Linked DNA regions of Homo sapiens. The protein of the gene in region 2 purifies or fractionates together with the protein of the main gene of each other region. This does not show direct contact. Each region holds a gene or a part of one and is shown on either strand. Other genes may lie near its edges. The genes, in order: RGPD8, TSNAX and SMG7.

Evidence for each region.
Region 1: the proteins of TSNAX (region 2) and RGPD8 purify together in Homo sapiens (affinity purification with mass spectrometry; 3 studies listed by BioGRID and IntAct, with this or other methods). This does not show direct contact.
Region 3: the proteins of TSNAX (region 2) and SMG7 purify together in Homo sapiens (affinity purification with mass spectrometry; 3 studies listed by BioGRID and IntAct, with this or other methods). This does not show direct contact.

What each region holds. Positions count from the first base shown.
Region 1 is NC_000002.12:112,395,500-112,399,156, reverse strand, and holds part of RGPD8 (RANBP2-like and GRIP domain-containing protein 8), read left to right. Parts: intron 1-878; coding exon 879-1,058; intron 1,059-1,151; coding exon 1,152-1,235; intron 1,236-3,657.
Region 2 is NC_000001.11:231,531,629-231,535,285, forward strand, and holds part of TSNAX (translin-associated protein X), read left to right. Parts: intron 1-3,657.
Region 3 is NC_000001.11:183,475,391-183,479,047, forward strand, and holds part of SMG7 (nonsense-mediated mRNA decay factor SMG7), read left to right. Parts: intron 1-3,657. UniProt on the Homo sapiens protein: Plays a role in nonsense-mediated mRNA decay. Recruits UPF1 to cytoplasmic mRNA decay bodies.

The DNA.
Region 1 (3,657 bases), on a different chromosome or scaffold from region 2:
CTTATATTTTGGTAATTTCAAAAATACTCAGTAATATGTTGTTATTAATGCACAGAAGGGATGCGTGTGTCTAAATGCTTAGATTTGCTTGCTTTGTCTTAGGTTTGGTGTGTCTTTTTAAACTTGGGAATCTAGGTATATGCTCTTAAAAAGTACTTCTTGGGGAATTAGAAAAGATTTCTAAGATAAGACATTGATTTTGTTATCTTAGCAGTGTAATCAAAACAAATATTATAACCTCAGGACTAATTCTTAATGAACTTTGCTGAAATTGAAAGTTGTTGCTGACAACTTAAGAGCATTTCTTCTCATCGTCATCAGCCATTATGAACGCCCTTGTTTTCTTGCTGTCAGCTGTTTGAGATTGTCATGATGATGTTAAATTATGTTCAGTCTTCTGAGTGTTTTGTTGATTAATTTGTGTTACTACTCTTTTATTAGGATTTATGTTGTCTGGTGTATTGTAGCATCTGTATTTCTGTCACCATTGAAAATCAGTTAGAAAACATCAGTAACTTATTTTGTTCACTTGGAAAAGCTTTCCAAGTTAACATTCCTCTACAATTATCATGGTTAACAGAAGTAATAGAAAGAGCATGGACTTTAGAATCAGAAGATGTTAGACTGTACAACACTTTTCTGTGTTCCTGAAGAAAAAAATAGAATAAAGACAAAAAAATAAAAATAATAATACAAAACAACAGAAAAACAAAGAAAAAAGATAATTAAAAAACACTTTCACGTGTATTATTATTTAAAGTGTAAAGTGCTTATTAAAGTGACAAAAATGTAAATAAGATAAAATATATCATTTTAGAGTTTTTACTTTTGGAATTTTTTGCAAATGAAAGCCCTTAATTAATGTCTTTTATTTTTAGTTGCCTGTGCCCCTGGAGTCTGTAAAACAGATGCTTAATTCAGTCATGCAGGAACTCGAAGACTATAGTGAAGGAGGTCCTCTCTATAAAAATGGTTCTTTGCGAAATGCAGATTCAGAAATAAAACATTCTACACCGTCTCCTACCAAATATTCACTATCACCAAGTAAAAGTTACAAGGTAAACAGGAAAGAATGGAATCATTTCATTGTGAAATTGTTTCTGTTCTAAGTGTTTTAAATGCTGTTTTGTTATTTTTATTTTTTTTTTCAGTATTCTCCCGAAACACCACCTCGATGGACAGAAGATCGGAATTCTTTACTGAATATGATTTGCCAACAAGTAGAGGCCATTAAGGTAAGTCACTTAATTTCTCTAGCTGTACTTTTTATTCCAAGATTCCTTCCCTGGCTACTCTCTCACTTTTTTTCTGAAGCTGGTCAGAATGTCCCCTTGCCATCCAAATAGTATGGCAAGGGGACATTTTGGTCTTTTTTTTTTTTTTTTAAGACAAGGGTCTTGTTCTGTTGTGCAGGCTGGAGTACAGTGGTATGATCACAGCTTACTGCGGCTTCAACCTCCTAGCTCAAGAGAGCCTCTTGGCTCAGCCTGCCACGAAGCCAGGACTACAGACAGTCACATGCCACCAGGCCCAGCTAATTGTTGTATTTTTTGTAGAGATGGGATTTTGCCATGTTGCCCAGGGTGGCCTTGAACTCCTGGCTCAAACAATCCTCCTGCTTCAGCCTCCCAAAGTGCTGGGATTGCAGGTGTGAGCCACTGTGCCCAGCCTACATACCTCGGTCTTGACCCTTTACCATATTTTGTTTTGTTTTGTTTTGAGATGGAGTCTCACTCTGTTGCCCAGTCTGGAGTGCAATGGTGTGATCTTGGCTCACTGCAACCTCCACCTCCCAGGTTCAAGTGACTCTCCTGCCTCAGCCTCCCGAGTAGCTGGGATTACAGGCACCCGCCACCAGGCCCAGCTAATTTTTGTATTTTTAGTAGACACAGAGTTTCACCATGTTGGCCAGGCTGGTTTTGAACTTCTGACCTCAGGTGATCTGCCCACCTTGGCCTCCCAAAGTGCTGGGATTACAGGTGTAAACCACCGCACCCAGCCCTTTACCATATTTTTGAAAGTACTTTATGTGTCTCTCTCCTCATCTTCCACAAAATTTGAGACCTTCAAAGGTAGAAACTGTTTTATTTAAAATATAAGAGTTCCTGACACAGAGAAGGTTCCCGAGTGATTGAAGTGCTACAATGTACTAATCATACTCTGGTCTATGAGTTCATTCCCAGATTAGCTGTGGATTACATGTGTTTCAAATGTATAGCTAGGAATCGAAAAGTGGTCTGAGCTTCAAAAAGTCTTACTATATTTTAATACTTCCATATGAATTTGACTTAATTATGTAAGGAAATAGTTATGTATATATATCTTATTTTAACAATAGGGTTCAAAGGAGCTTGACTTTTTTGGAATTGGAAATAAAAGTAGGTTCTTTCATGTTTATCAAGCAAGAACTAAATTACTCATACTGCTAAAGTTACATCAAGGATATGCTGATGTGTGGCGATTATTACAGTGTGATCAGCAGCATTTGCAAATTAAGAGAATACTATTTGGTGGGGAAGACATTTTTGAATTTGCACAAAAATTTTGAATGTTAATTCTGTGTAGTCGTGGCCTATGACAATTACATACAATTTTGACTTAACATACAGGTTTCAGGCTCCCAACATTGTATTCTGTGGAAGTATAGTGGAGCACTAGTCCATGAGCTTGAAAAGCTTGGTACTAGTACTGACTCTGCCATTAATTAATGATCTTGGGCCAGTCACTTCCTTTGTGACTGTTTGGCTTCTTATCTTTAAAATGAGAGAATTATTGAAGCCAGTTCTCATCACACTGAATGTTAAAAATTACAGTTACAGCAGTGATTGCAAATTCAAAGCTCTGGTGCGGATACCAACAGTGACTATAAAGTTTTCTAGGTGATTCCACTAGTTTCTTATTTCTTGGATGTGTATGTGTAGCATCTGGACTAGGCACTGTAGATGGATGAATGGGGGAAATTTTATTTAGCTTGAAAATTGAGATAGTTTTGGACCTCATGGTTAGGTCTTTCTGGGAAATTTTTAATTGAAACACTTGTAGAAACAGAAAGCAGACATGCTAGATCTGTCCCTGACCTCACTTGTTAGAACTGATCGGATTCCTGGGCTGATACAGAGAAGTTTGAAACTTTTCAAAATTTACCTGTTTTCTGATACCACTACAATTTCTTTGGAAAAAGAATTTCCTGTTAAGTGTCTGTTTTGTAAGGGGACATTTTGTAGGTTCTAGGGTGTTGGGTATGGTGCTGTCATTTAGTTTTCTTCAGCAGAGATCAGGTAGCCACATAGCTACACTAGACGGCATTGGATCTATCTGCCATCTTGTCAAGGCAGCAGAGTTGTGTTAAGAAAACATTTTTGGAGTCAGATGTGTTTCAAATTCCAGCTGTTATTCCCTGCATCCGTTTCTCTCATTTTAAGATAGGAGCTAATATTGTTTACCTAACAGTGTAGATGGTGTAAAAATTAAGAGTTTAAGTGCATTGGACGTATTATTATATACATAATAAATTCTCTGCAGCTACTACTTTTTTCCCTTTCCTGGTGGAGCATTTGAACATCACCTTGAGAATTAGTTGTATTTTGTTTGAACACAGGGTTAAGTGAAAAGCTAATTTGGGGAGGTGATTTGGAATGTCAGGTAGTCCAGGTTGCA
Region 2 (3,657 bases):
TCTCAGTAATAAAAGACTAGATATATTTAGATCCATGTCAGCTACTAATTTAGTTAATAGTTTAAGTTCTTGTTTTTTCAGTTCGTGCAATATACATGATTGGGTGTTTCCTATAGGCCAGGCAGCTTGCGGGGCTGTGGAGTGAAAAGACTTGGGAAATAAAGGCGTTATTAAGAGAGTTAAGTGGTTTAAGGGTATTTCAAGGTACAGAGCTTGATAAATTCAGGAAGTTTATACTTGAAATTTGCTAAGTAAGTAGATCTTAAATGTTTTTACCACAATTAGCTGGGCATGACAGCATGCGCCTGTAGTATGCTTATAGTCCTGGCTACTCCGGAGGGGCTGGGGCAGGAGGACTGCTTCAACTCAGAAGTTTGAGGCTGCAGTGAGCTGTGATTGGGCCACTGCACTCCAGGCTGGGCAACAGAGACCCTGACTCAAAAAGGAAAAAAAAAAAACTAACTGAGGTGATGGATACGTTAATTAGCTTAATAGTGGTAATAACACACACACACACACACACACACACACACACACACACACACACACACACACACAGTTTTGGTTTTTTTTTTTTTTTGGAGACAACGCCTCACCCTGGCCCAGGCTGAAGTGTGCAGTGGCGTGATCTTGGCTCACTGCAAGCGTAGCCTCTTGGGCTCAAGTGATCCTCCCACCTCAACCTCCCAAGTAGCTGGGACTACAGGCATGTGCCACCACACGTGGCTAGTTTTTAGATTTTTTTGTAGAGGCAGGGTCTCACTGTGTTGCCCCTGCTGGTCTCGAACTCCTGGGCTCAAGTGATCTGTCCCCCTTGGCCTCCCAAAGTGCTGGGGTTACAGGCATAATCAATCATGCCTGGCCTTATAATTTTTAATTGTCAGTTATACCCCAGTAAAGGTGGAAAAGCAGGAAGACAACAGGGAAAAAAATTTTAATAAACTTGAAAAAAAAGGTCCAAGTTTCTTTTTTTGGAGGTGTTTATATTATTAATATATGTGGTTAAAGTAATTTTTAAAACTTTATGTAACTCTTTGTTACGTGTCATTTTGTGATAATCTCTTGTTTACTAAGTTCATTTTTTACAACTTGTACAGTATTCCCATTGTGAGACTAAGTAGTAAAACCCAGTTAATACATACCTATATTTAAAGAGGAAAATATTTTAGTTGAGCCTTTTTGATTTCCATGTAATTTAGAAATAAGATGATTTTATTCTCTTCATTTTCATAAACTGAATAATTATTGCTTTCTTACATATAGAGACAGTACTTTTAGGTACAGACTGTTTTTGCTTTCTAGCCATTTGTATTCTAAGAAAATTAAAATCATTTCCCTTTTTTTTCCTTTCATAAGATTTACCAAGTGTTTTGGAAAAGTTTGACATAAAAGCTTACAGGTCTGTCAGAGGAGATTTTAAAAGGGATTTCATGGGAAGTCTTTTTTTTTTTTTTTTGAGATGGACTCTCACTCTGTCACCCAGACTGGCGTGCAGTGGTGCAGTCTCAGCTCACTGCAACCTCCGCCTCCCAGGTTCAAGCAATTCTCCTGCCTCCGCCTCCCAGGTTCAAGCAATTCTCCTGCCTCAGCCTCCCAGGTAGCTGGGACGACAGGCCTGTGCCACCATGCCCGGCTAATTTTTGTATTTTTAGTAGACATGGGGTTTCACTATATATTGGCTAGGCTGGTTTTGAACTCTTGACCTCAAGTGATCCACCCACCTCAGCCTCCCAAAGAGCTGGGATTATAGGCGTGAGCCATCGCGCCCGGCCCGGAAAGTCTTTAATGAGAAGCACTAGCTTCCAGACAAAATTTCATGAGATAGTATAGTTTGTTCAACTCAAACCCAGGATCTTTAATGTCCGAGCAACCACTTTGCTATCAAAGTTGGAGTTAATTGCATTAAAAGGAGTTATCAGATCAATATTCTACTGTTGTTGAATCATCTGAGTAAAGAAATACTGTCTCTTTTTAAATTTATTTTGAGGTAATCTCAAATTTATTTAAAAAACTAGAAGACTTAATGCAGTTGGAAAAATAGTACAGAGAATTTCTGTATAGACTTGACTTAGATTGACCAATTTTTAACATTTTGCCACTTTTGCTTTATTATTCTCTCTATATATGTAAATTTATATGTCTAACCATATATTCTGAACCATTTAAGAACAAGTTGCATGCATCATACCCCTTTACTTGTTAATACTTCAGAATATATTTCCTAGGAAGAAGACTATTCTGTTGTATAACTCTAGTATTGTTAACTAATTTCAGGAGATTTAACACTGACATAATACTTTAATCTACAGTGCATATTTTGACAATTGTCTCAATAAGGTTCCTTCCAGCTTTTTTTCTCTCTAGTCCAGTAATCTAGAACAGGATCACATATTACATTGTAATGTCTCTTTTTAGTTTTCTGTGATCTGGAACAGTTTCCCAGTTTTGTCTTTCTTGACAATGATATTGATTGAAGAATATAGGTCTTATTTAATAGAATATTCCTCAACTTAGATTTGATTAATATTTTCTCATGGTTAGATTCAGGTTATGCATCCCTGGCTGGAATACTACATAAATGATGGTTTGTTGATTTGTTCTTTTTGGGGGTATTGCAAGGGACCAAGTAATGTAAGGCTTCATAAAGAGTTTGGAGTTTGTTAAACGTAATGCAGAGTCATTAGAGAGTCTTAAAAACTAAAGTATATTTTAGAAATGTCACTCTGGCAGCTACAGAAAGGCAAGGTGGGCAGACGCAGACCAGACAAGAGACTATTTTGTAGTTCCGGTACAGTAAGGTATTTGTAAGGTAACTTAGAGGTAATAAAGTAATAAGGTAACTTAGATTTGGATGACAGTAATGAAGCTGATGAGACAGATTCAACAGTGCTTTATAAAATTAACTTATATTACTATTATGAGTAATTTATACTTTATTCCAACTGCATTAGCATACATTTGAAAAAGTAATAGCAGCAAAATAATAAGACATTATTCCATGTTAGGGGCAGTGCTTATTGGGCACATGGATTTGCAGTTCCTTTTCAACAATTTCTTAGTTCCCAGGAGATTGCATACCCTTAGTACGTTTATCTCAAACTACAACAGATGCTCTTATCCAGTATGTTATACTGCTTATGATTTCAACAAGCAGTTCAGTCAGGAAATGTTTTGTGAACACCTGCTGCTAGACATGGATCTATGCTCTGATACAGTGGTGAAACAAGTGCATTTACAAATAAATAATATAATTTTAGCTAGCGAAGGATAAATGTAAATCAGTGAAGCGTGGTAAGGAATGGAGAGTAAGGGAGGAGGGAGGCACGTGATTCTTAAGCAGTCCTTGAGCAGAATGATATCTGAATGATGAAAGTGAAATGTGAGATGATGAGAGGCAGTAGCAAAAATAGAGGCATCAAGAAAGGTACAAGCTTAGAGAATCAGGACTAGCAAGAAGACATAGTCTGCCTGGCTCATGAGCTAAGGGCAGGACATGAGGCAGTTTAATGTGTTAGAGGCATGAATTTACTATGAAAAGATTCTAGATTCTGCGGGTTATTTTTCCCATAGGTAATGTAATCTTTATGTAGACTCCCAGTTGTTGTACTGTTTTATTAAATGTTAGGTATATACAACGTTCTGTAAGTATAGCTTTGT
Region 3 (3,657 bases), about 48 Mb from region 2:
GACCATATTTAAGAGGATCCTGAATATCATGTTCCATAATTTATAGTTAAAATGGGTAGACAATGGAGAATCTGAGATGATTTGCTAGAATTAATATGTTCACAGCTATGTGTTAGGAAAATGACTCTGTGTAATGTAGTGGTGGATAACAGAGAAAAGTAAGGTTGTTAGAGCCTGACATTAATTGGGGAGTGACTACTGCTTAGAAAAGGGGAAGACTTCAAAATTGGTCCTTTTTGTAAGGTTCTTTTCCTTACAAAAGATTCCCTTTGGGACTTTGGTCCTGAATAAGGTACTGGCAGTGGATCTAGAAAGTTATGAAAAACAAATTGGCAGAGTGGTGGTACTTTTAATGGGGAAGATCAGTGGACTTTGAGAGGCTTCTTGTTAATGTGCCTTATATTTTATAGCTTGACATGGTAGGGAAGACTTCCTTAGATGTGGAATCAATGATAGTTTGAGATGAACTTAGTTCTTTGAAGAAGGGAGAAAAAAAATGAATACAATGATATTTTTCAGCTAAAATTGAGCAGGCAAAATGGGGGAGGCATAGGTCCTGGGGTCCCTTAAAGATTCCTGGAGCCAGTCTTGTCTCAATCTTAGGCATTTGTCCTAAGTAAATTAAAACAAGTGTTAGAAGTCTGAGACCTAGGTGGTGGTTGTGGGAATCATAAAGGCTTGTGCCAGTCTGAATTTCCCTCCTCCTCTTTTAGATAATCATTCCATTTAAAGTCTGCAGTGGGGACACTAGAGAATGTCTTTAGGGAAGCATTATGTTCACGTTCTTTGAAAATAGAACTGTTGGTTTTTATAGACACTTCAGGGAGGATGCCGAGTATTGCTGAATGGATGTGGTTGGGGGGTGTAGCAATTGTTTTCGTGACCTTGACTTGAAGAATTTTCTTGCCTACCTTTGTCAGTGGTGGAAGATCATGACTGGGCAATTTTTAATCTCTATAGCTACAGATCCTGCCTCATGTAGATGAAAATTAGTTTTGTCTTGGCTGAATTTTAATTTGTTAGAGTAAATGAGCTGGGATGTCTGGCATTGAAATGGTGGGGTGGTGGGAAACCAAGGAGCAAGATGGCTGTTTCAGAAGGGTCAGAAATGAAGATAGGAGGCAAGAAGTCCCAGTAAGACCAATAAAGAGAGAATTCAACATCAAGGGAACTGAATTAGTCTCAAGTTATAAAAATAGAGCAGAGATGAAAGGAAGAAAACCTATCTTCTATGTGGGAAAGATGATGATATTCTGGGCAGGAAAGGATAATGAAATTTTTTGTTTGTTGAAAGGTAAGTATCTTTTTAATACACTGACAAGACTTCTAAGAGAATCAGTTAAGTTGAAAATACTTTGTTATGTTTTATAAAAATAAAAATATGATCTTAAATATGAGGGTTCTAGGCCGAATAACATTGGGAATTTATTACTCAAATTGAAGGAGAATTCAGAGTATTTTCTCTTTTGATTTATGACAGAATGAAAGATTTTAAAAGACTTTGACACCTCTGTTGAGTAAAAGAAAGGGTGTATTGAATACAATTCATTTGATGGGGGTAGGAGAAGGTTAGGATAGGCCGCAGGTGAGGTATAATATTATGCTTTAAAATAATGGCATTTTGAAAAAAAGAAAAGTGGAAATTAACATATCAAAGTTGGAAAAGCAGGAGTGGGGGAAGTATTAAAGTACCAGACAGAGAAGACATCAAAGTTGTTTTGGAAGATGAGAAAGTAGAATAATCATAGCTATAGGGAATACCAGTCAAACAGGTCAAATCCTGTTATAAAAGGTGGCACAGGTGCCACCGAATGACTTCTGCTGCCATTGTGGGAGCCACTGTTCATACTCTATGCTCCCTTCAACTTTCCTCCTTTTCTTCCTTCACTATTCTCTTTTGTCTCTAATTTCTTCCTATGCTGTGAGTGTTTCAGTGAGATCCACTTGAAGTGGATTCCTACTGTTAGACTCCTTTACAGGAAAGGTCCAGAAAGTATCTGTTTTGTTTTGTGTGTGTGTGTGTGTGTGTATGTGTGCATATGTGTATATATACATATATACATGTGTGCATATGTGTATATATGCATATATACACGTGTGTGCATATGTGTATATATGCATATATACATGTGTGTGCATATGTGTATATATGCATATATACGTGTGTGCATATGTGTATATATGCATATATACGTGTGTGCATATGTGTATATATGCATATATACGTGTGTGCATATGTGTATATATGCATATATACGTGTGTGCATATGTGTATATATGCATATATACGTGTGTGCATATGTGTATATATGCATATATACGTGTGTGCATGTGTATATATGCATATATACATGTGTGTGCATATGTGTGCATATATACATGTGTGTATGTGTGTATGTATACATATATGTATATGTGTCTATGCACATATGTGTGTATATATACATATATTTTTTGTATGATACATGTATAGTGAAGACGCTGCATCTCAGTGGCTCACTTGTCAGAAGTTTTGTTACTAATATAACAGCCACAGGGTTGTTTTCTAAGCCAGCAGAAAAATGGTTGTCATTTAAATAGGAAGTAAAATATCCAATATGGTATAAAATAAAAATGTATCACTATAAATCTTGAAACAGAGAGATAGTGGAGATAAGGCTGGATAAAGTAGCAAGCTAAGCCTTATCCTAGCCTGGGGAGAGGAACAGAGAAGATAGTGGGAGCATTGGGAGGAATATATAAATAGGATGGTCTCCAGGTTCTAGAAGAGTCTAGTAATGCTAGATCAGATAGTCACTGTATCCTGAAGCTTCTAGAAGTCTTAGAGCACATGCTGATTTTAGTCCATGTGGTCCACGAAGTCTTCTTCACCTGCCCCATCCCCTTCCTTTCCACCAGGTACATGCTTTACAGAATGTAAAGTAGCTTTTGTCCCGGAATATCAGCCAAAGGTGGTGACATTTTTTGAATGAATGACTGTCTCTTTAGGCTTATAAGTCTTTGTTATAACAGTGTTAATAGCTTATTACCTGCTTGGATATTGTCTGACTAAATTATTTTGGCAGTTAATTTCTGCTTCCCTTGTGGTTTCATTTGGATTCAAAATGTATACTTCCTGTCCTATCTTAGGTTTCATTTCTTTGCTTTCTAACAGCTGTGGTCTTCTGCCTTCATGGTAGAAGAAGCAATTGCTGAGTTTTATGTTGTTGTTTTTAATGGATGTGTTACAGTAAGATCTGGACCCACTAGTATTGCAAGTTTCATGAGGCAGTTTTGAGGTGGAGAGTGGTTCACACTTTAAAAGGGCTGGTGTGTTTTATACTTGAGAAAAATTGTTTCCTGCCTCCGGCTAGCCTTTCAAATTTTTGTATTAGTGTCATGAATGAGTGCCTGAAAGTTTAGATGGGTTAGTTTAATTGATCTTGTGTAGAGAATAAATTATAAAGCATACGTCTTGTAGATAGTGGATTATTCATCTGTTTGTAGGTATATTGGCAGATGGCCATTATATATTGCCATTAAAGTTTTGCAGTCAAGCCATATTTTAGTTTAGTTGCTGTATTGTTATGAATAGACTTATCAGCTGTCTGGGAAATTGTAACTAAGCATTTACAAGGAAATATAAGAGTGGAATTTTGGCAGGTATGTCACATGGTA